Regions from separate parts of the Homo sapiens genome. Here region 1 is linked to region 2. Evidence: fine-mapped expression QTL. A gene starts in region 2. The other region holds a variant in brackets. All regions are shown on one strand. Distances are from middle to middle. Region 1 holds the start of LOC105370790 (a long non-coding RNA gene). Region 2 holds the start of NUSAP1 (nucleolar and spindle associated protein 1).

Region 1 (10,434 bases), 150 kb after region 2:
TGGGGGGGGGGGGTCTAATTTGAGAGCGAGAGTGTGTATGTGTGTGTGTGTAAGTGTGTGGATTTTTTTATCATTTTTTTAAAATGCAGTACTCTTTGTATCAGTCTGTCATGGGTCTATAGCTGTTTCAGATTTTTTTCAGCTGTACTTGAGCATCTGAAACTGCAAGAAAGAAACTCATTAAATGTGATTCTTCTTACTAAACAGGCCTGACTGCTGTAGCTGTGTAACTTCCCCATTCCCACCTACTCTTCCCATCCTTTCCCAACTTTGGAGAAAACTCCCCAGTTTAGCCCCCTGACCTGCAGGCTGTGTCCTGGCAGGTGTGGGAGGGAAGCCCATGGCCAGGTACCAGGGAGGGCAGTGAATGTCTTGCTCTTCCCATGGGTACAGCCCACAGCTTCTTGGCTGAACGTAGAACTTCTTTTTCTCACCCAGTATACCAGCCTCTTCCTGGTGATTCTGTTTTGCTGCTTTGGCAAGAACTACATTTTGTTTTTAAGAGAAATTTCTGAATATGAATGTGGAGAGCAAACACAAAAAGATTTAGGTTACGCCGGGTGCAGTAGCTCACGCCTGTAATCCCAGCACTTTGGGAGGCCTAGGCGGGTGGATCACCTGAGGTCAGGAGTTCAAGACCAATCTGACTAACACGGTGAAACCCCATCTCTACTAAAACTACAAAACTTAGCCGGGCATGGTGGTGCGTGCCTGTAATCCCAGCTACTCGGGGGGCTGAGACAGGAGAATCCCTTGAACCTGGGAGGCGGAGGTTGTGGTGAGCCAAGATCGTGCCACTGCACTCCAGTCTGGGTGACAGAGTGAGACTCCGCCTCAAAAAGATTTAGGTTGCAAATGTTTCAAGCATGTGCAGTTTTGTGTGTGTGTATACATATATATGGTCAGCATATATATTGTGCAGCTAGGGCGAAGCCAGCAGAGGTGTGTGTATGTCTTTATGAAATGTTTGAAAAGAGATAAACTGACTGCTTGATAATCACTCTCAGGTGTAAAGCTCCAAGTGTAAATAAAAGTGGCATTTAACAAATCTTTCAGAACAAAGTACAGCTGACTATATATACCAAGAGCTAAGCTAAAGGAACAGCTGAGAGCTCCGATCTCCACGAGAGACTAATCTAAAAGCTCTGCTTTGTACTTCCTCACCCTGCTTTCGTACAAGGAAGGGGGACGATGGGAAATCATGGACTTGTAAGTTGTATTTAAACATAAAAATGAACTTGGTAACTTCTGGGTTTAGTAGAGCCTCAGTGTCGCTTTAACTTAGTTTACTTTTTTTTTATTTTTAAAGCAGCAATGGATGGTTTTAAAGGAGTATTATGATTGTAAAATTGCTAAATATGACTGTAACACAGCTTTGTGGTAGCTGTGACACAGTTCACTTGGGCAAAGGAGTGGTGATGGACTCGTTAAAATCATATATACTTGAATAGTCCATTGACCGAAACTCTTTATAGACTATTGTGTAAATGTGGAATCACAGACTGTTAACATTGCCTGGACTTCAGCAGAGTCCTGGAGCTGCTGGGACCTCTCCTATCATGATGAACTTGGACTTTTTTTTTTGATTTCTGGTTTTAAAAAACATAAAATTATAGAATCCAGATAATTCGCTGGAGTCATTCTGATCCACCATGTAGATCTGTATTTAGTATCATTTGGATTTGGAGAAGTGTTGATTACATTATGGCTGTGTAATAAAATTTTTATTAAAACTGCATCACACTGTAGCCACTTTGCCACCACCTCCCCACATGTAGCCGCTGAAACCCCCACGAGATGCCAATGCACACAGCAGGGAGAAAAGCCAACCAAAGAAGACCGAAGGGTATCTTTCCACCCGAGTAGCCTCTGTAGTGATTGGGACCAAGACTAAGGACTTGTCTCCAATCTCAGCTGAGGCAGTGCCTCTGAACCAAGATCTTGGTCAGGCATTAAGACACTGGCTTTGTCCTACCAACTAGGATTTCTTGGTGGTTCACACTATTTCTTGTGCTGGGGAATTCCCTCATTGGGCCCCTCCTCCCTCCACAGTGTGGTTTCAGTGTTGAAGGGTGCAGCACCCAAGGTTGTTTTTATGCATTTTTTCAGTTCCTTCCAAGAAGCAAAAAGGCCAGTGTCCATCTGCCTAGTTCATAATGTTTATAGGTCTGTTTGTCTGTCTTGCTTCTGGCAGGTGTAGGGAAAGTCTACTGCCTGCCACTCCCTTCAAAAAGAATGTTTTTGCTTTTGTGAAGTCCTGACTTGCCACTCAAACTGTACCAATATTGTAAATAAATGTTATGCCATTTTAACAAAGGGATCAGATTGAGTCTAAGGATTGCATCCTGAGTGGCAACTCCTAAAGCCATGTTTTGAAAGTCCAAGAGAACCTCTCTTGCTCCTTTTCCTTCTTCTCTTAGCCCTGTGCCCACAAAAGTGAAAGTGGCCATCGTCAACTCTTTAGCAGCCTGGTTCCCCGGAAGCCTCTCTGGTAGGGTAGTTGCCTAGACCCAAGGAAACCTCCAGTTGTCCTGGTTTACTTCCTGTCTTGGTAAGAGACCAATAAGTTTTAACAGAGCTAAGTAGACCCCTGATGTACTGCCTAACCCTAGTGAGAATCTGGGCCTTTCAACCTTTTTTTTTTTAGCTGGGGTCTCTGCTGTCTAGGCTGGAGTGCGGTGGTGTAATCACAGCTCACTGCAGCCTCAACCTCCCGGGCTCAAGTGATCCTCCCACCTCACCATTCCAAGTAGCTGGGACTACAGTCATGCACCATCACACCCAGCTAATTTTTAAATTTTCTGTTGAGACGGAATATTGCTATGTTGCCCAGGCTGGTCTTGAACTCCTGGCCTCGAGTGATCCTCCCGCCTCAGCCTCCCAAAATGCTGGGATTGCAGGCATGAGCCACTGTGCTCAGCTCCTTTCAACTTTAAATTGGCCTAGGCACAGTTTCTTTGCTCTTCTTTTTTCTGGCTATCATGAGTTTGAAGGGGGTGCCCAAGGGCCATGAGTGTGGCTATGGAGGAAACACTGATCTTCCTTCATCCACGCACCCCTCATGCTGGGGAGGTCTATAGGCCTCCCCATCCCCAGTGCCTGAGGCTGTGTCTCCAACCTTTCTGAACACATTTTAGCTAGGAAGCAAGAAGATCCTGGATCTTCCACACCCTTTAAGAAGGCAAGGGATGGCAATCACAGTGATAAGAGCCACGTCCAAGACCGCTTCTGGTGGTGGAGAGGTTGCTTACCTGCAAGTGCGTCCAATGAGGTTTTCTCCAACTCCCCAGCACTCCCACTACCTAACTGGTGGGAGCAGTGGGACCTAGAGAGCAGGGGTTCTGGGCAGATGACAACATAGCTTGCTTATCTTCCAGGATTTGGGTGCTGTGGGGCAGCCACTTGCTACCTATCTCTGAGAATCCAGAAAGAACACCTGGGGTGCAAGTGGAGAGAAGAAGGGTGCTGGGTTGGTCAACTTCATCTCCCTGGCCACGTTTTTCCAGAAGGGAGATCTTCCTTCAGTAACTATAATGTGGCTGTGATCCAGCAGCCTTAGGAAGCCATCAACTCCCAGCTCAAATTTTTTTCACGATTTCCCTGACTTAAGCGGAGACTGCTGAGCTCCCTTGGCAAGGAGGGTGTTAAGGAGCTGAAGGGAATGGCAGTGCTAAGACAGGGCCAAAAGGCATGCCTTCTCTAAGGTTCCACAGGCCAGCCCCAGGGAACATGGAGATACGGCTTTTAGGCACTGGAGCATAGATAGGCATGTCTAGGGCTTCCAGACCATGCTCAGGATACAAGGGAGGGCCAAGAGCCAAAAGGCACCCAGGCTCGGGAAAGGGTTCAGATCCCCGCTCTGCCACTTGCTATTACCTAGGGCTGAGCTACTTAACACCTTTGAGCCACAAGTTTTCCACCTTTCAAAAAACAACCTGTCCCCAGTAGGGGTCCAATAAATGCTGTTGTTAATGAGAGTGAAGCCGCTGGACCCTGGAGGAGAGGAACGGCCCTTGGAGTGGGCTGATGGAGGGCGGAAGCACTGGGCAGTGGGCAGGACCAGAAACTCCACTTGGGCTGGGGTTGGGAGGGGGGGAAGAAACCCTGACTCCAGATGGAGGCTCCCACTGGGAGACCCTGGGCTGGCCTAGGGATGCGTCCAGAGAAAGTGTGCTGCCTCTGGGCCAGGCCCTCGTTGCTGTCATTCCCCACAGGCCAACGCACACCACCTTTACTGACCAGGCTTCTGAAGGCGTTGAAGGCTTGCCACCTTACCACCCTCCAGCTGGCCCCAACTGAGGCCCGACCTACCCACAACCCCCAAGAGTAGTGAATACTCAAAATAGCACCAATAGTACCAAACCAGAAGGTAAGTGTAAAAGAAGCACAACAAAGCTCTGACCCTTCCCATGATGATTACCTTGATACTTCTTCAAAAGATAGATACTTTTGGGCC[C/T]TGCACCATGGCTCCTGCCTGTAATCCCAGCACTTTAAAAGGCCGAGGAGGGAGGATCGCTTGGGGCCAGGAGTTCGAGACCAACCTGGTCAACATAGCGAGACTCCATTTCTTTTTTTCTTTTTCTTTCTTTCTTTTTTTTTTTTTTTGAGGTGGAGCCTCGCTCTGTTGCCCAGGCTGGAGTGCAGTGGCGCAATCTCGGCTCACTGCAACTTCCACCTCTCAAGTCCATGCAATTCTACTGCCTCAGCTTCCCAAGTACCTGGGATTACAGGCATGTGCCACCATTCCTGGCCAATTTTCGTATTTTTAGTAGAGGTGAGGTTTTACCATGTTGGCCAGGCTGGTCTTGAACTCCTGACCTTGTGATCCTCCCGCCTCGGCCTCCCAAAGTGCTGGGATTACAGGCGTGAGCCACCACGCCCGGCCTCTATTTTTTTTTTTAATCGAATACTTTTGATTTCTTTTTCTCTTTTAGCCATGGATAGCCCTGCTTCGCTAAGCGCGTGCGATGCAGCACAGCCCTTCACCTGGCAAGCCCGGAAGCCTCAGGTTGACTCCATCAGTTTTGCCGGGAGAGCCCTTCGGCGCTCCCCGCTTGGTGTCTCCACCACCCCCCGCACCGGCCTGGGCGCCACCCTTGTCCGCGCCAACGGTCCCCGCATCCCTGGCCCCGTGCGCCTCCTGCGCCGTTAGCGCCCAGTCCACGCAGCAAGGGAGGAGGCGCGCGGCCGCTGCGTTCCAGGGCGCTCTGCCCTCGTTCCCCACTCCGGGCCCGCAGCCTCAGAGCCAGGGTCCCAGTGGCCCGGGGCCTGCATGCGTCTCCAGCCGTGGATCCCCCGGGGCGCGCGCCTTGGGAGTTGAGCTGGACCCCGGCTCGCACGCGGCCCACGCGGAGACGCATGGGCACTACGGTCCCAGACCCCGGGCCACTGCATGCTCTGTGGACTCGGTCCCCAGGCACACCCGAGGTGTGGAGGTCACGCCTGCAGGCGCAGAGCTCACAGATGGAATTAGGAGGCGCCTCCTAACCCCCGCCTCCCCCCATCACACGCCACCATGACTACACGATGCAGGGACCCCCGACGACGTCCCAGGCATTCCTACAGTGGTCGCCTCCACAAGCTGAGTCCCTGACCTCAGACCCTTCCTGTCCCCTTCACCTCCCCTCGCACTGGGTGAGGTTCTGAGGGTTCTGAGTTCTGGAGAAGAAGGAGGATCACAGGAACACAGGCTCCTGAGTGGGATCGGAAACCTTGTTTCTGAAGTGTAAGGAGAGAATATGTTCTTACTGCGCACACACAGGTGTGGTGACACATTTTGTTCGTTTTAGACAAGAGTGACTCAGACTGTGGAGGGTCAATGAACACTGCTAGATCCTGAGCCCTGCTGAGGTAACCTTGCACCCATCCCTGGATATTCCCACAACGTCTAGTCAATCCATTTATGAGGTCAGAGATTGCCGGGAAGGAAGGGAAACCTAGAGGCCAGGAAAAGAGGCTGGGGCTGGGAGCTGAGGGCTCGCCTGTCAGGTGAAGACCCATTCACGCCTCTTTCCAAGAGAAAGGAGACCCTCACCTCTCTCCCATTCTCACGTGTCCACTGGGCTCTGGCCAGCCCTCCAGCACCCTCTCTGGTAGGCCCTGACGGAGAAGGACATCGAACCCACCAGAGGTGAGGAATGTTTTGGATGCAGGAAGCAGCTGAGAAACCAAAATTCCCAGCGCGCACATTGACAACCTCTTGGAAAGGGAGGGAAGGCAGCCACTGAGCGTCCCAGGGCCTGTTTTCTTCTTGGGCCCTTTCTGGTTTCCTTCCTCGGTAAGACAATGAAAATGATACACTATCACTCCCGGAAACGGGCGGGGGCATCACAGGATCCACGCATTCCTGTGTCCTTTGCACCTAGCACAATAGCAGCTGCTCCATGGAAGTGTGTCTGCTCTGTGAATGCATGAGTGAATCACAGGTATTGTCACAGAATAGTGGGGTCTTAGGGTCATAAAGTCCCTTGGAAGGGCACCAAGTCCCACAGTGCATGTCTGGGAGTTGTTACTAGAATAAGACCTTGCACCACCGGGTCCAGTGGAACATGACAGCCCAACCCCCTCTCACCTCCCCACTCCTACCACACACACACACCCCACACACACTACACACACCACACTCACACACCACACCCACCACACACACACTACACACACTCACACACCACACACACCACACTCACACCCACACCTACCACACACCACACCCACCACACATGCCACACTCACACCACACCCACACCACATACCACACACCACACACACACCACATGCAACACACAACACACACATACCACACGTGCGCCACACATACATGCCATATACACCACAAACATAACCCCCCACACACACCACACATGCCACAATGACACATACCACACACACACTAGAGAGGCTCTGCTCCTGCTGGAGAAGACTTGAAGTCTCCTCAAAGGAACAGATGCTCCATTCAGGAGCACAGGTCAAAGGCTGTGCCTTCCCTTCTCTCCCCAAGGTGAAAGGCCCTGCTTGTCATCTTAGGAAGCAGAAACCAGCACTGTGCCTGGCAGAGGGTGATGAGTGGTGATTTTGCTCCTGCCACTGGTGCTGCCCTGGGGATGGGGTAGAGGTGGGCACAGCTATGAGGCAGGCTGGGGTGAGGACCCCAGAAACCCCTCACATCACACATCCCATTTTCCAGGCCCTTTTTTCTTCCCTAGTTTTGTACCTGAGGGTGATGTTTCTCTAGAAGAGATGCAGCCCTCAGTCATGATAAATCCTGAAATTTTTTTTTTTTTTTTTTTTTTTTGAGACGGGGTCTCTCAATCTGTTGCCCAGGCTGGAGGGCAATGGCTTCATCACGGCTGACTGCAGCCTCAACCTCCCTGGGCTCAGGTGATCCTCCCACCTCTTCCTCCTGAATACCTTGGACCACAGGCATGTGTCACCATGCTTGGCTAATTTTCTTATTTTTTGTAGAGATGGGTTTTCAGCATGTTGCTCAGGCTGGCCTCAAATTCCTAGGTTCAAGTGATCCTCTTGCCTGGGCCACCCAAAGTGCTAGGATTACAGGTACCAGTCACTGGGCCCACCCCTGAAGGTCTTTGATGGGGGTGAAGACTCAGGCACTTCAAGAAGCAGACCTCAGGCCAGGCGCAGTGGCTCATGCCTATAATCCCAGCATTTAGGGAGGCCAAGGTGGGCAGATCACCTGAGGTCAGGAGTTCAAGACCAGCCTGGACAACATGGAGAAATCTCATCTCTATTAAAAATATAAAAATCAGCTGGGCATGGTGGCAGGTGCCTGTAATCCCAGCTACTCAAAAGCTGACACAGGAAATTTCCTGAACCCAGGAAGCAGAGGTTGCAGTGAGCTGAGATCACACCAATGCACTACAGCCTTGGCAACAGAGCGAGACTCTGCCTCAAAAAAAAAAAAGCAGACCTGTAGGGAACAGGAGGATCAACCAACTGAGATACCACAAGAAGATAGGTTCTGGCTGGGCACAGTGGCTCACACCTATAATTCTAGCACTTTGGTAGGCCAAAGCAGGAGGATTGCTTGAGCCCAGGAATTCAAGACCAGCCGGGACAACAGAGTGAGATCCCTGTCTCTACAAAAAATTTAAAAATTGGCTGGGCATGGTGACACATGCCTCTGCCTGTGGTCCCGGCTACTCGAGAGGCTAAGGCAGGAGGATCACTTAGGCCCAGGAAGTTGAGACCGAAGTGAGCTGTGATTGTGACTCTGCACTCCAGCCTGGGTGACCGAGTGAGACCCTGTCTCAAAAATAAATAAATAAATAAAGGAAAAGAAAAAAGGTTATCTGCTCAGACATGTAAGCTGGCCTTGTGGCCAAGGCAGAGAGACTCTCATGGCCTATCTCAGAACAGCCACCTAATGACCATCAAAACCTTGACACACTGGCGGGGTGCAATGGCTCATGCCTGTAATCCCAGCATTTTGGGAAGCTGAAGGAAGAAGACTGTTTGAGGCTAGAGTTCAAGACTTGGCCAACATAGGGAGACTCCATCTCTACAAAAAGTTTTTAAAATTAGTTGAGCATGGTAGTGTGTGCCTGTGGTCCCACCTACTCAGGAGGCTGGGGCAGGAGGATCCCTTGAGCCCAGGAGGTGGAGGCTGCAGTGAGCCATGATGGCACACTCTAGCCTGGGTGACAGAGTGAGTGAGACTTTGTCTAAAAAAAAAAAAAAAAACCCAAAAACAAACAAAAAACAACCTTGACACATTCCTCTACACCCCAGTGTCCCCCTTTTCTGTTGTTTAATTTTTTAAAAACTGTCTCTGGCGGTCAGGCGCAGTGGCTCACACCTGTAATCCGAGCACCTTGGGAGGCTGAGGCAGGCAGATCACCTGAGGTCAGGAGTTCGAGACCAGCCTGGCCCATTAATGTAGTGAAGCCCTGTCTCTACTAAAAATACAAAAAATTAGCCAGGCGTGGTGGCACACACCTGTAATCCCAGCTACATGGGAGGCTGAGGCAGGAAAATCGCTTGTGCCAGCAGGTGGAGGTTGCAGTGAGCTGAGGTGGTGCCACTGCACTTCATCCTGGGTGACAGAGCAAGACTCTCAAAAAAAAAAAAAAAAATTTTATCTGGCCTGCTTAATGCTTAAGTGTTTGAACATCCCCACCATTTTTTTTTTTTGTGGCACTCAAGAGGCCATCCCTTCCACCTCCATACTAGTCAGTCTGATTTTTTCCACATCCCTTCTACTCAAGCATCAAAGACTGAGAAAAATGAGTCATAAAAGAACAGATGTTCTAGGGTTTCAACGTTTATTCCTGGCATGACTAAGAGGACGGAAGAGCCTGCTGACCTCATCCTACAGCTATACAGGGACTCCCAGGCCTTGCCCCAAGACGTACCCTTATGTTTTCTGACTGTAGTAGGTGGGGGCAGACTCTACCTTCAGAAGGAACTACAAGATGTTTCTTTGTTTTGAGATGGAGTCTGGCACTGTCGCCTAGGCTCACTGCAACCTCTGCCTCCTGGGTTCAAGTGATTCTCCTGCCTCGGCTACCCAAGTATCTGGCATTACAGGTGCCCTCCACCATGCCCAGCTAATCTTTGTATTTTAGTAGAGACGGGATTTCACCACGTTGGCCAGGCTGGTCTCGAACTCCTGTCCTCAGGTGATCCACCCACCTCAGCCTCCCAAAGTGCTGGGATTACAGGTGTGAGCCATTGCACCCGGCCAGGAAATACAAGATGTTAATGAAAGAATTTGAGAACATGAGCGAGGTGGCTCATGGCCATAATCCCAGCGCTTTGGGAGGCCTGGGTGGGCGGATCACCTGAGGTCAGGAGTTTGAGACCAGCCTGGCCAACATGGTGAAACCCCGTCTCTACTAAAAATACAAAAACTAGCCAGGCCTGGTGGCGAGCACCTGTAATCTCAGCTACTCAGGAGGCTGAGGCTAGAGAAGCAGGCTGAGGCTCTTGAAGCCAGGAAGCAGAGGTTGCAGTGAGCCGAGATCACGCCATTGCACTCGAGCCTGGGCGACAAGCACGCAGGAAGTCAGGGGACCTAGCCAGGATACACTGCCTTTTCCATCAACTGGCTGTGTGTCCTTAACCTCCCTGGTGGAGCCACTTAACCTCTTTGGTACTTCCGTAATGTGAATGAGGAGGATAGATGGATATAAGGCCCCTTACTGCTCTAAGAATCTATGGGATTGGATTTCAGTTCAGCATCCATTTCCAGGTTTGCGCTCATCTTTCCAATGAGAGACACCTGGGCAGGTAGAGCAAAGAGCAATTCTCTGGCTGCTGGTATAGTAGACCTAAGGCTTGAGCAAGTGCCTGATACAAGAAGAAAAGGAATTGCCCCTTTTTCTTGGCAGCCAGGACAGAGACCCAGTGCCCAACCTGCTTATACCTCCAACCCTGCCCATCCATCGCCTGACAGACAGGAGTGCAGGACAAGTT
Region 2 (10,434 bases):
TTTTTTTTTTCTGAGATGGAGTCTTCCTCTTGTCACCCAGGTTGGAGTGCAATGGTGTGATCTCGGCTCACTGCAACCTCCGCCTCCTGGGTTCAAGCGATTCTCCTGCCTCAGCCTCCCCAGTAGCAGGGATTACAGGCGCCCACCACCACGCCCAGCAAATTTTTGTATTAGTAGAGATGGGGTTTCGCTATGTCATCCAGGCTGGTGTTGAACTCCTGACCTCGTGATCCTCCCGCCTCGGCCTCCCAAAGTGCTGGGATTACAGGCGTGAGTCACTGTACCCAGCCAGAATTGGGATATATCTTTAAAAAGAAAAGAGGCTGGGCGCAGTGGCTCACGCCTGTAATCCCAACACTTTGGGAGGCTGAGGTGGGAGGATCACGAAGTCAGGAGATTAAGACCATCCTGGCCAACATGGTGAAACCCCGTCTCTACTAAAATACATAAAATTAGCCAGATGTGGTGGCATGCACCTGTAGTCCCAGTTACTCGGGAGGCTGAGGCAGGGGAATCACTTGAACCCGGGAGGCGGAGTTTGCAGTGAGCCAAGATCCTGCCACTGCACTTCAGCCTGGGCTACAGAGCAAGACTCCATCTCAAAAAAATAAAAAATAAAATAAAATAATTGAAAAGAAAGGCTGAGTGCAGTGGCTCATGCTTGTAATGCCAGCACTTTGGGAAGCAAAGGTGGGCAGATCACTTGAGTTCAGGAGTTCAAAACCAGCCTGGGCAACATGTTGAAACCCTATCTCTACAACAAATTAGCTGGGCATGGTGGTGCATGCCTTATAGTCCTAGCTACTTGGGAGGCTGAGGTGAAAGGATGGCTTGAGCCTGGGAGGCGGAGGTTGTTCTCCATCCTGGGTAAAAGAGCCAGACTCCATCTCAAAAAATAAATAAATAGAAAAAAGTTTCTTATAAAGATCCTTACCAAAATATTTATGGATGGAATGATGTAATTTCAGGTATCTGCTTCAAAACATTGTGGAGGATAGATATTTTGTTTTGTTTTAGAGATGAAGTCTCGCTATGTTGCTCATGATGGTCTTGAACTCCTGGGTTCAAGTGATCCTCCCACCTTGGCCTCCAAAAGTGTTGGGATTACAGGCGTGAGCCAGCATGATAAGCCAACTATGATTTTAGATGAAACAAGATTGGCCAAGAGTTGATAAGTGCTCTAGTTTAGTGACAGGTAGACAGAGGTTCATTATATTCTTCTCTCGGGTTTGAATTTGCCATAACAATTAGAAAAAAATGTACTTCACTTATAATACAAACAAAATTCCATTTAAATATGCTGTTGAGCACAACAAAAGCTCAGGGTAAAAAAGCTATTTCTAAGTGTCAACATACTATAATAATCCTTTTTAAAATTAGTTACAATAAATCCTCTACCAGTAAGAGAACAATAAAATGTAGACGGAAGTAACCTTGTATCTGTCTACTTTATGACTTTGAATCTAAGAGGTTCATGCCAATTGTAGAATGTTTAAATAAATGTCGGAGGGAGTATATTTTAGGAGTATTCAAATATGACAGATTGAGAGGGATCAATTTATTTCACATGCCTCATTAAGAGTAAAGTTAAGGCCTGGTGCGGTGGCTCACACCTGTAATCCCAGCACTTTGGGAGGCTGAGGCAGGTGGATCACAAGGTCAGAAGTTCGAGACCAGCATGGCCAACATGGTGAAACCCCGTCTCTACTAAAAATATAAAAATACAAAAATTAGCCAGGCATAGTGGCGTGCGCCTGGAATCCCAGCTACTCGGGAGGCTGAGGTAGGAGAATAGCTTGAACCCGGGAGGCGGAGGTTGCAGCGAGCCAAGATCCCGCCACTGTGCTCCAGCCTGGGTCAGAGCAAGACTCCATCTCAAAAAAAAAAAAAAAAAAAAAAAAAAAAGAATAAAAAGAACCCGAGTCTGCTGTCTCTAAAATTTATGCTCTTTTAGCTGCATCATTAATCATCCTCTTAATTCATTCTCTGACCCCATCTAGGTAATGAACCTACACTTAGAAAAAAATCAAGTTGTCTTGAGCTGTGCCATTTCATAACCCTCTTCGTAAGTCCCATATAGCTCATCTTACTCCACAAATACAGAAACACATGGGGCTTTCCCTCTAGTTTTTTTTTTTTTTTTTTTTCAGACGGAGTCTCGATCTGTCGTCCAGGCTGGAGTGTAGTGGTGCGATCTTGGCTCACTGCAACCTCTGCTTCCCAGGTTCAAGCCATTCTCCTGCCTCAGCCTCCCAAGTAGCTGGGACTATAGGCGCTTGCCACCTCGCCCCCCTAATTTTTGTACTTTTAGTAGAGACGTGGTTTCACCATACTGGCCAGGCTGGTCCCGAACTCCCGACCTTGTGATCTGCCTGCCTTGGCCTCCCAAAGTGCTGGGATTATAGGTGTAAGCCACTGCACCTGGCCTTCCTCCAGTTTTTTACAAAGCATCTAAACAAGCATTGTCTAATAGGAATATAATGTGAGTCACATATGTAATTTTAAATTTTCTATTCATTTTGCTTTTTTTTTTGAGGAAGAGTCTCGCTCTGTTGCCCAGGCTGGAGTACAGTGGGATGATCTTGGCTCACTGCAACCCCCGCCTACCAGATTCAAGCAATTCTCTGCCTCAGTCTCCCAAGTAGCTGGGATTACAGGCGCCCGCCACCACGCCCAGCTAATTTTTGTATTTCTAGTAGAAACAGTTTCACTATCTTGGCTAGGCTGGTCTTGAACTCCTGACCTCGTGATCCATCCGCCTTGGCCTCCCAAAGTGCTGGGATTACATGCATCAGCCACGGCGCCTGGCCTAATTTTGCTTTAAAAAATAAAATAAAAACAGGTGAAATTAGTTTTTAAATATTTTATTTAACCCAATATATCAAAAATGTCATTTCACCATGTAATCAATTTTTTTTTTTAAGACAGAGTTTCGCTCTCGTTGCCCAGGCTGGAGTGCAATGGCGTGAACTCGGCTCACCACAACCTCCACCTCCCGGGTTCAAGCGATTCTCCCTCCTCAGCCTCCTGGGATTACAGCCTAGCTGGGATTACAGGCATGTGCCACCATGCCCGGCTAATTTTGTATTTTTAGTAGAGACAGGGTTTCTCCATTTTGGTCAGGCTGGTCTCGAACTCCCGACCTCTGGTGATCTGCCTGTCATGGCCTCCCAAAAGTGCTGGGATTATAGGCGTAAGCCACCGCTCCCAGCCGTAATCAGTATTTTTTTTTTTTTTTTTTTGATACGGAGTCTGTCGCCCAGGCTGGAATGCAGTGGCGCAATCTCGGTCACTGCAAGCTCCGCCTCCCGGGTTCACGCCATTCTCCTGCCTCAGTCTCCTGAGTAGCTGGGACTACAGGCGCCCGCCACTATGCCTGGCTAATTTTTTGTATTTTTAGTAGAGACACGGTTTCACCGTGTTAGTCAGGATGGTCTCGATTTCCTGACCTTGTGATCCGCCCGCCTCGGCCTCCCAAAGTGCTGTGATTACAGGTGTGAGCCACCACGCCCGGCCCGTAATCAGTATTTGTAAATGATTAATTTTTCTGTACTAAGTCTTTGAAATCCAGTGTGTATTCTGTGTTCACAGCATATCTCAATGCAGATTTAATAATATATAATAGCTACATATGACTAGTGATTACAGTATAGGACAGCACGGGTCTAGATTCATTAGCCTCCTCTCCAAGAGCACATTCAGGAACCTTCTGCCTCTGGCCCCAGAATACACCCAATTCCAAGCAGGCAATTGCTCCTTCTTGCTTTGTCCCCTTTGGGTGGGAAGGGGACTCCTATAGCGATAGGGAGTGTCTTTTATTCAGGAAAAAGAAAGGGAGCTGTGGGTCTAACTCCGTTTTTGAAGTTTGTCCAAGCTGCAGAAATCTTCCTGGTTACTGGACAAAGCAACTAAGAATTCCTATATTTTAACCGTAACGTTGAATCAAACTGGTCAGAATGAAATGAATTGTCTCAATGTTAAAGCCAAAACTCAAAATTGAGGAGCCTTGCAATACCAAATTCACTGACTACTTTATTGTCACTTGTAAATCATAGTACAGGCAGGTCGCAAAGTTTACCAGGCAGTATTCAAGTACATAACATTCTAGTTGTGTTTTTCTCCAGTTTCTGGGGTTACTGAAGAATTAGCCCTGGCATAGCTTATTACAAACTAACCATAATCGCAAACTTAAAAGTTCTAATATCAAGCGTGGGCAACATACTAAGGCCTCTACAAAAAATTTAAAAATTAGCCGGGAGTGGTGCTGTGTGCCTGTAGTCCCAGCTACTCCGGAGGGTGAGGTTGGGAGGATAGCTTGAGCCAGGAAGGTAGGGGCTGTAGTGAGCTATGAGCGCACCAGTGCACTCCAGCCTGGGCGAGAGCAAGACCCTGTATCAAAAAGTTCTAATATCTAAAAGGATTGTAGTTTATAGTATGTTATTCTCACTGTAAACCAAAAGGTTATTTTTTTCTTTTGTCCACTACTAGATACATCTTTCTTAGCCTCACTTCACTTGTACAAGCCACCTGGGAGAAGTGGCCCTCAGGAAGATCCTAAAACCAATACACAAATACAACTTTTTCATTTCATTAATACATCAAGTTCATATAAGAGTCAAACAGGTAAAAGCAGCATCCCAAACTGTTTTCTCCTCGTACATGTCAGTTCCACGATCCTCAGTCTCATAAAGTCAGGGACTAGAGACCAATGTAATTATCAATACGTACCTGCCTTTGAGTGAACCTTCAATGCCAACTAGGAAGGGCGCTTCCAAAACGACGTTATTTGTAACTCCTAGGAAGACAAACACGGGTCAGAACCCATACTCTGCGGGCCTTGAAATGGAAAATCTCTCCTCTAGACAGACTCATCCTGGCCGTAAATATCAGGAGACTCCCCGATTCCCTGCCCCATCCCCAGGCCAAGGAGTTATTTGCTTCCAACTTTTCATCCCGTTTTCTTCCCCAGGTGGTTCTCCGCCACCCGGTGGAGAAAGCGGGAACACCCTCTCGGGCTAGCCTCTGCCTTTCCCGAACGCTTCACTGCACTCACTGGAGAAGACCACGGCCCCGAGGGACCGCGACAGGTCCCAGGCGAGGTGCACCGAGTCGGCGAGCACTGCGTGACACTGTGCGCACTGGAACACAGCGCACCTCTCAGGCTGCAGCCAAGACGGCAGCTGCGGGCCGGCGGCTGGCTCCTCAGCCCCCAGCCCTGCGGGGCCGAGCGGCGAGGACCCCTTCACCACCTGCGTATCCCACTCCATGGAGGTCGTAAAAGAAGCTTGGTCAATCGCCCTCTCAGTGCCACCACAAAAGTCCCCCCGGGGCGGCGTTGCACAACGTGAGCGATGCCGCAGCGGCTGAGCCGCCATCTTCCCGCAGCCGGCGCCTTCCTTTCGAATACACGCCAGGCCCCGCCCCAAGCACAGCTCCTGCGTCCTCATTGGACATCATGGGCAATCCAAGCACTGGAGTCCGAGTCCGCGCACTCGTTACCTGAACAGGCGTTACAGGCCCTTTGGCGCCTGCGTATTCGTGAAGTGTGAAAAAAGCGCGCCTCTGTTGGGACGGGAAATCAGCCTTTCTATTGGTCAGGGTTAGAAACCCCGCCTTTGAGGCATTTTCAACCAATGGAAGCGCGGCATTCTTCATTTAAACTGTCTATAAATTTCTGCCTAGTCAAAGTTAAGAGTGGCGCCAGGGATTTGAACCGCGCTGACGAAGTTTGGTGATCCATCTTCCGAGTATCGCCGGGATTTCGAATCGCGATGATCATCCCCTCTCTAGAGGAGCTGGACTCCCTCAAGTACAGTGACCTGCAGAACTTAGCCAAGAGTCTGGGTCTCCGGGCCAACCTGAGGGTACGGCGCTGGCGGTGCGGGTCCCTGGGCGGGCGCGGCGGGAATAGCGGCCTCGGGGAGATGCGGTGCGAAGGGACCGAGAGGGAAGCCCGGGACTGAGGCAGCTCTCCCTGCCCCTCGGGCAGTAGATGTGGTTCACGGTAGTCCCAGTTAGAACTCTGATAAACGGAAGAGGAACTGTAGTTTTCACCTCATTTTGAAGCTGGCTTGTCTGGGTGCTCACATGATAAGCTCTATTCCGAGGGATGGTTTATTGTTTTTTGTTTTGTTTTGTTTTGAAATTACTGTATACCTCTCAGGGCGTCGATTACGAAACTCAGGCCCAGAAAGCACAAGGGGTGTCGTTAATCGTTAGACAATTAAGTAAATAATTGGCTCAGCTTCTGGAAAACCCCAAACAGACTCCAGTGATTTGTAATATTGCCGATAATCTCTTGATACTTTATTGATGGACCTGTCAGAAAAAAAAAATCGACTTTTAGGGGAGCACCTCCTTGGGTAAATTTTTATTGATGACTGTTGGGTTGATGGTCTCTATCAAAACCAGTAAGGTCTTTGACTCCGAGGCTACAAGATGTTTGGAGAGTTGGCCCGGCGCTGTGGCTCACGCCTGTAATCCCAGCACTTTGGGAGGTCGAGGCAGGCGGATCACCTGAGGTCAGGAGTTCGAGACCAGCCTGGCCCTTAAAAAATTAGCCGGGCGTGGTGGCACACGCCTGTGATCCAAGCTTTTTGCCTGTGATCCCAGCTACTTGGGAGGCTGAGGCAGAAGAATCGCTTGAACCTGGGAAGCCGAGGTGGCAGTGAGCCAAGATCGCACCACTGCACTCCAACTTCGGTGACAGAGAGAGACTCAGTCTCAAACAAAACAAAAACAAACAAAAAACCCAAGATGTTAGAAGAAGATTTGGGGATTTAATGTAGGATAGCGGTTTTATATATTTTGTTAATAGTTGAGACTTCCCACATAATACTGCTATATACTCTGGAGGTTTCTCCTGCAGGCTGTGATACTGACAGTGAGTAAATGCTTAAATCAATCGTCACAATTTTTTTTTTATTTGTTTGTTTGTTTGTTTTTTCTTTGAGACGGAGTCTTGCTCTGTCGCCCAGGCTGGAGTGCAGTGGCGCCATCTCGGCTCACCGCAACCTCCGCCTCCTGGGTTCAAGCGATTCTCCTGCCTCAGCCTCCTGAGTAGCTGGGATTACAGGCGCGTGTCACCACGCCTGGCTAATTTTTGTATTTTTAGTAGAGATGGGGTTTCACCATGTTGGTCAGGCTGGTCTCGAACTCCTGACTTCCTGATCCGCCCGCCTCAGCCCCCAAAGTACTGGGATTACAGGCGTGAGCCACCCCACCCGACCTAAATTGTTTAAACAAAATAATCAGGGCCTAAGTGCCTGTTGGGGCTGAATGACCAAAGGGTTTTCCTTGGGGATATTTCTGGGCTGTAGTGGTTAGTGGCTCCTCTATACTTCGTAAACAAAGCCTTAATATCTCAGCCTAAATTCCTTAGGCTTTTTTGCTGCCTAGCTAGAATCTTTTATCCAAGGCTGCATCCCTGAACACTTGGCACTTTTATCTATCTTTGTCCCATTGCTCATTTTGACCCTCTAGCCTCAGATCACCTTCTTTCTCCTTTATCTGCCTGGCTGTGTGTGTGTGTGTGTATTTTTAGTAGAGATAGGGTTTCACCATCTTGCCCAGGCTGGTCTTGAACTCCTGGGCTCAAGCGATCCTCCCGCCACGGCCTCCCGAAGTCCTGGGATTACAGGCGTGACCCACCACGCCTGGCCCATATCAAGTATTTATATGTGAATCAAGTATTTATAGGTGAAATGTTATGATACCTGTAAAATTTGCTGTAAAATACTCAAGGAAAAAGAGAGGGAAACTAGATGAAGTAAGAACAGAAGAATGTTAATAATTACTGAAACTGGAGATAGGTACATGGGGGGATTGCACTATTCTCTCTACTTTTTTAGGTTTGAAATTTTCCATAATAAGATGTTTTAAATTATTAACTTGGTACAACCTAAGAGCTCATTAAGTCAATTGCCTTTTGAAATTTTAGTACATAGCAAAAAAATTAATAAATTGCTCTGAGAAATTATCAAGATTTGATTAAAATGAAACACTACAATTTAAATAAATTTTACTAGCATAAATATACTAGTATAATTATGCTAATAAAATTTATAATTTATACTAGTATATACTATATATATTATTACTAGTATAAATATATAATATATATACTAGTATATATAAATATACTAGGATACTAAATATACTAAATACACTAAAATAAACTAAATATATAAATATACTATATATACTAAATATACTATATTAATATACTATATGTACTAGATAAATATACTATAAATATACTATATAAATATACTAAATTTACATATTTAGTATTTAGTGTGTATTAGTATATATATTTAGTATAGATATACTATATACTAAATATACTATATATACTAATATGTATACTAAATATATTTAATATACTAAATATATTATACTATAAATAAATATAAATACTATACTTAATATACTATATACTAAATATACTATATATAAATATATTAAATATATAAATATACTAAATATAAATATACTAAATATAGTATGTATGTTTAGTATAAATATACTAAATATACTATATTTATACCGGTATAATATACTAAATATGCTATATTTATACCGGTATAAATATACTAATATACTATATTATACTGGTATAAATATACTAAATATACTATATTATACCAGTATAAATATAAATATACTAAATATACTATATTTTTATGTATACTAGTATATTTGTACTAGTAAAATTTATTTAAATTGTAATGTTTTATTTTAATCAAATCTTGATAATTTTACTAGTATGATATTATTAAAAATAAATTTATGGCCGGGCATGGTGGCTTGCACCTGTAATCCCAGCATTTGGGAGGCCAAGGCAGGTGTCTCACCTGAGGTCAGGAGTTTGAGACCAGACTGGCCAGCATGGCAAAACCCCATCTATACTAAAAATACAAAATTTAGCCAGGCGTGGCAGGGGGCACCTGTAATCCCAGCTACTCGGGAGGCTGAGGCAGGAGAGGAGAATTGCTTGAACCCAGGGAGGCAGACGCTGCAGTGAGCCAAGATCACACCATTGCACTCCAGCCTGGGCAACAAGAGCGAAACTCCGTCTAAAAATAATAATAATAATAATAATAATAATAAATATATAGGAGATAATATTCCCTCTTTTGAGAGACTTCTCTTAATGGTATAGCAATTTGAAGGAGCCAGTTATTAATGTTAGTGGGGCGACTGGTCCTGTTGTCACTCATGCCCTCACTTCCTTTCTTGCGAGCTTAAATTACAAACACTGGCACTATTTCCACTTCCTTGCACCTCCCTATACTCACCTGGCAAAACCCAAGCCTGATTAAACCCAGCTATGTGCTTAATCTTTGCCTATACCTCTGCAGCTAACTCTAGTTGGAGAAAACACCTAACTTTGTTGAGCGAACTTATTTTAAATATGCAACGCTAAACCTTAATATGGGCATTTGATCCTCCTCCTTTTGGTTTTTTTTTTTTTTTTTTTTTGAGATAAGGTCTCGCTCTGTTGCCTAGGCTGCAGTGGCACAATCAGGCCTCACTGCAGCCTCAACCTCTCAGGTTCAAGACATCCTCCCACCTCAGCCTCCTAAGTAGCTGGGATTACAGGCACGTGCCACCACACCTGGCCCATTTTCTTCTTAGTCATGAACTTTCCTACTTTTGAGGATAATTACTTTTTATCATCTTGACTCAACTTGGTTCCCTTCCCTCCCTTGATGACTTTACCTCATAGGTCATGGGAAAATAGATGCAATCAACAGAAAACTGCCTTATCGTTCAACCACCAAATCCCCCCCTTTTTTTCCTTTCCTTTTCTTTTTTTTTTTTTTTTTTTTTTTTTGAGACAGGGTCTTGCTCTGTCAGCCAGCCTGGAGTTCTCTGGAGTGCAGTGGCACAATCAGGACTCACTGCAGCCTCAACCTCCCGGGCTCAAGCAATCCTCCCACCGCAGCCCCCTGAGTAGCTAGGACTACAGGCATGACCACCCTGCCTGGCCAGTGTTTTTTTGAATTTTAGTAGAGATGAGGTCTGACTATGTTGCCCTGTCTGGTCTCCAACTCCTGAGATTCAGCGATCCTCGCGCCTTGGCCTCCCAAAGTGCTGGGATTACAGGCGTGAGACCCTAGGCTTGGCCCCACCACCAAACCTTTTAGCCACCCTGCATCTACATCCACATACTCTGCTTCTTTGCCTGTCTAAGGGCAACCTTTCCATTTATGCTGAAGATCCTGGGCCCTCTTGCTTCCCCTAGGACTACATTCCTACAATTAGAGCCTCTCTCCTCATTAATTTCTCCACTCTGCTAGCTTATTTGCCATAAGGCATGCAATCATGTTTTACTATCACCCATCTTTTAAAAAAATAAAAAAGCCAAAATCCTCTCCTGATCCCATGTCCTCATTCCATCTACTGCCCTATTTCTCTGTTCTTTTCTAC

Evidence for each region. PIP is the estimated chance that this variant, and not a neighbour inherited with it, causes the effect.
Region 1: its variant is fine-mapped to the expression of NUSAP1 in whole blood (TOPMed, PIP above 0.99).

What each region holds. Positions count from the first base shown.
Region 1 is chr15:41,481,244-41,491,677 of GRCh38, forward strand. RTF1 (RTF1 homolog, Paf1/RNA polymerase II complex component) reads left to right here. Exons shown (of 18, transcript NM_015138.5): 18 at 1-2,320. LOC105370790 (a long non-coding RNA gene) reads right to left here and starts at 5,126. Exons shown (of 3, transcript XR_932169.3): 1 at 4,987-5,126; 2 at 3,252-3,436. RefSeq lists enhancers at 2,431-2,480, 9,060-9,179, 9,148-9,442. The variant C/T (reference allele first, on the strand shown) is at 4,457.
Region 2 is chr15:41,327,187-41,337,620 of GRCh38, forward strand. It overlaps NUSAP1 (nucleolar and spindle associated protein 1), which reads left to right and starts at 5,695. Exons shown (of 11, transcript NM_016359.5): 1 at 5,695-5,864. The coding sequence starts at 5,772. It overlaps OIP5 (Opa interacting protein 5), which reads right to left and starts at 5,405. Exons shown (of 5, transcript NM_007280.2): 1 at 5,054-5,405; 2 at 4,729-4,795. The coding sequence starts at 5,375. RefSeq lists enhancers at 5,159-5,418, 9,553-10,174, 10,175-10,434.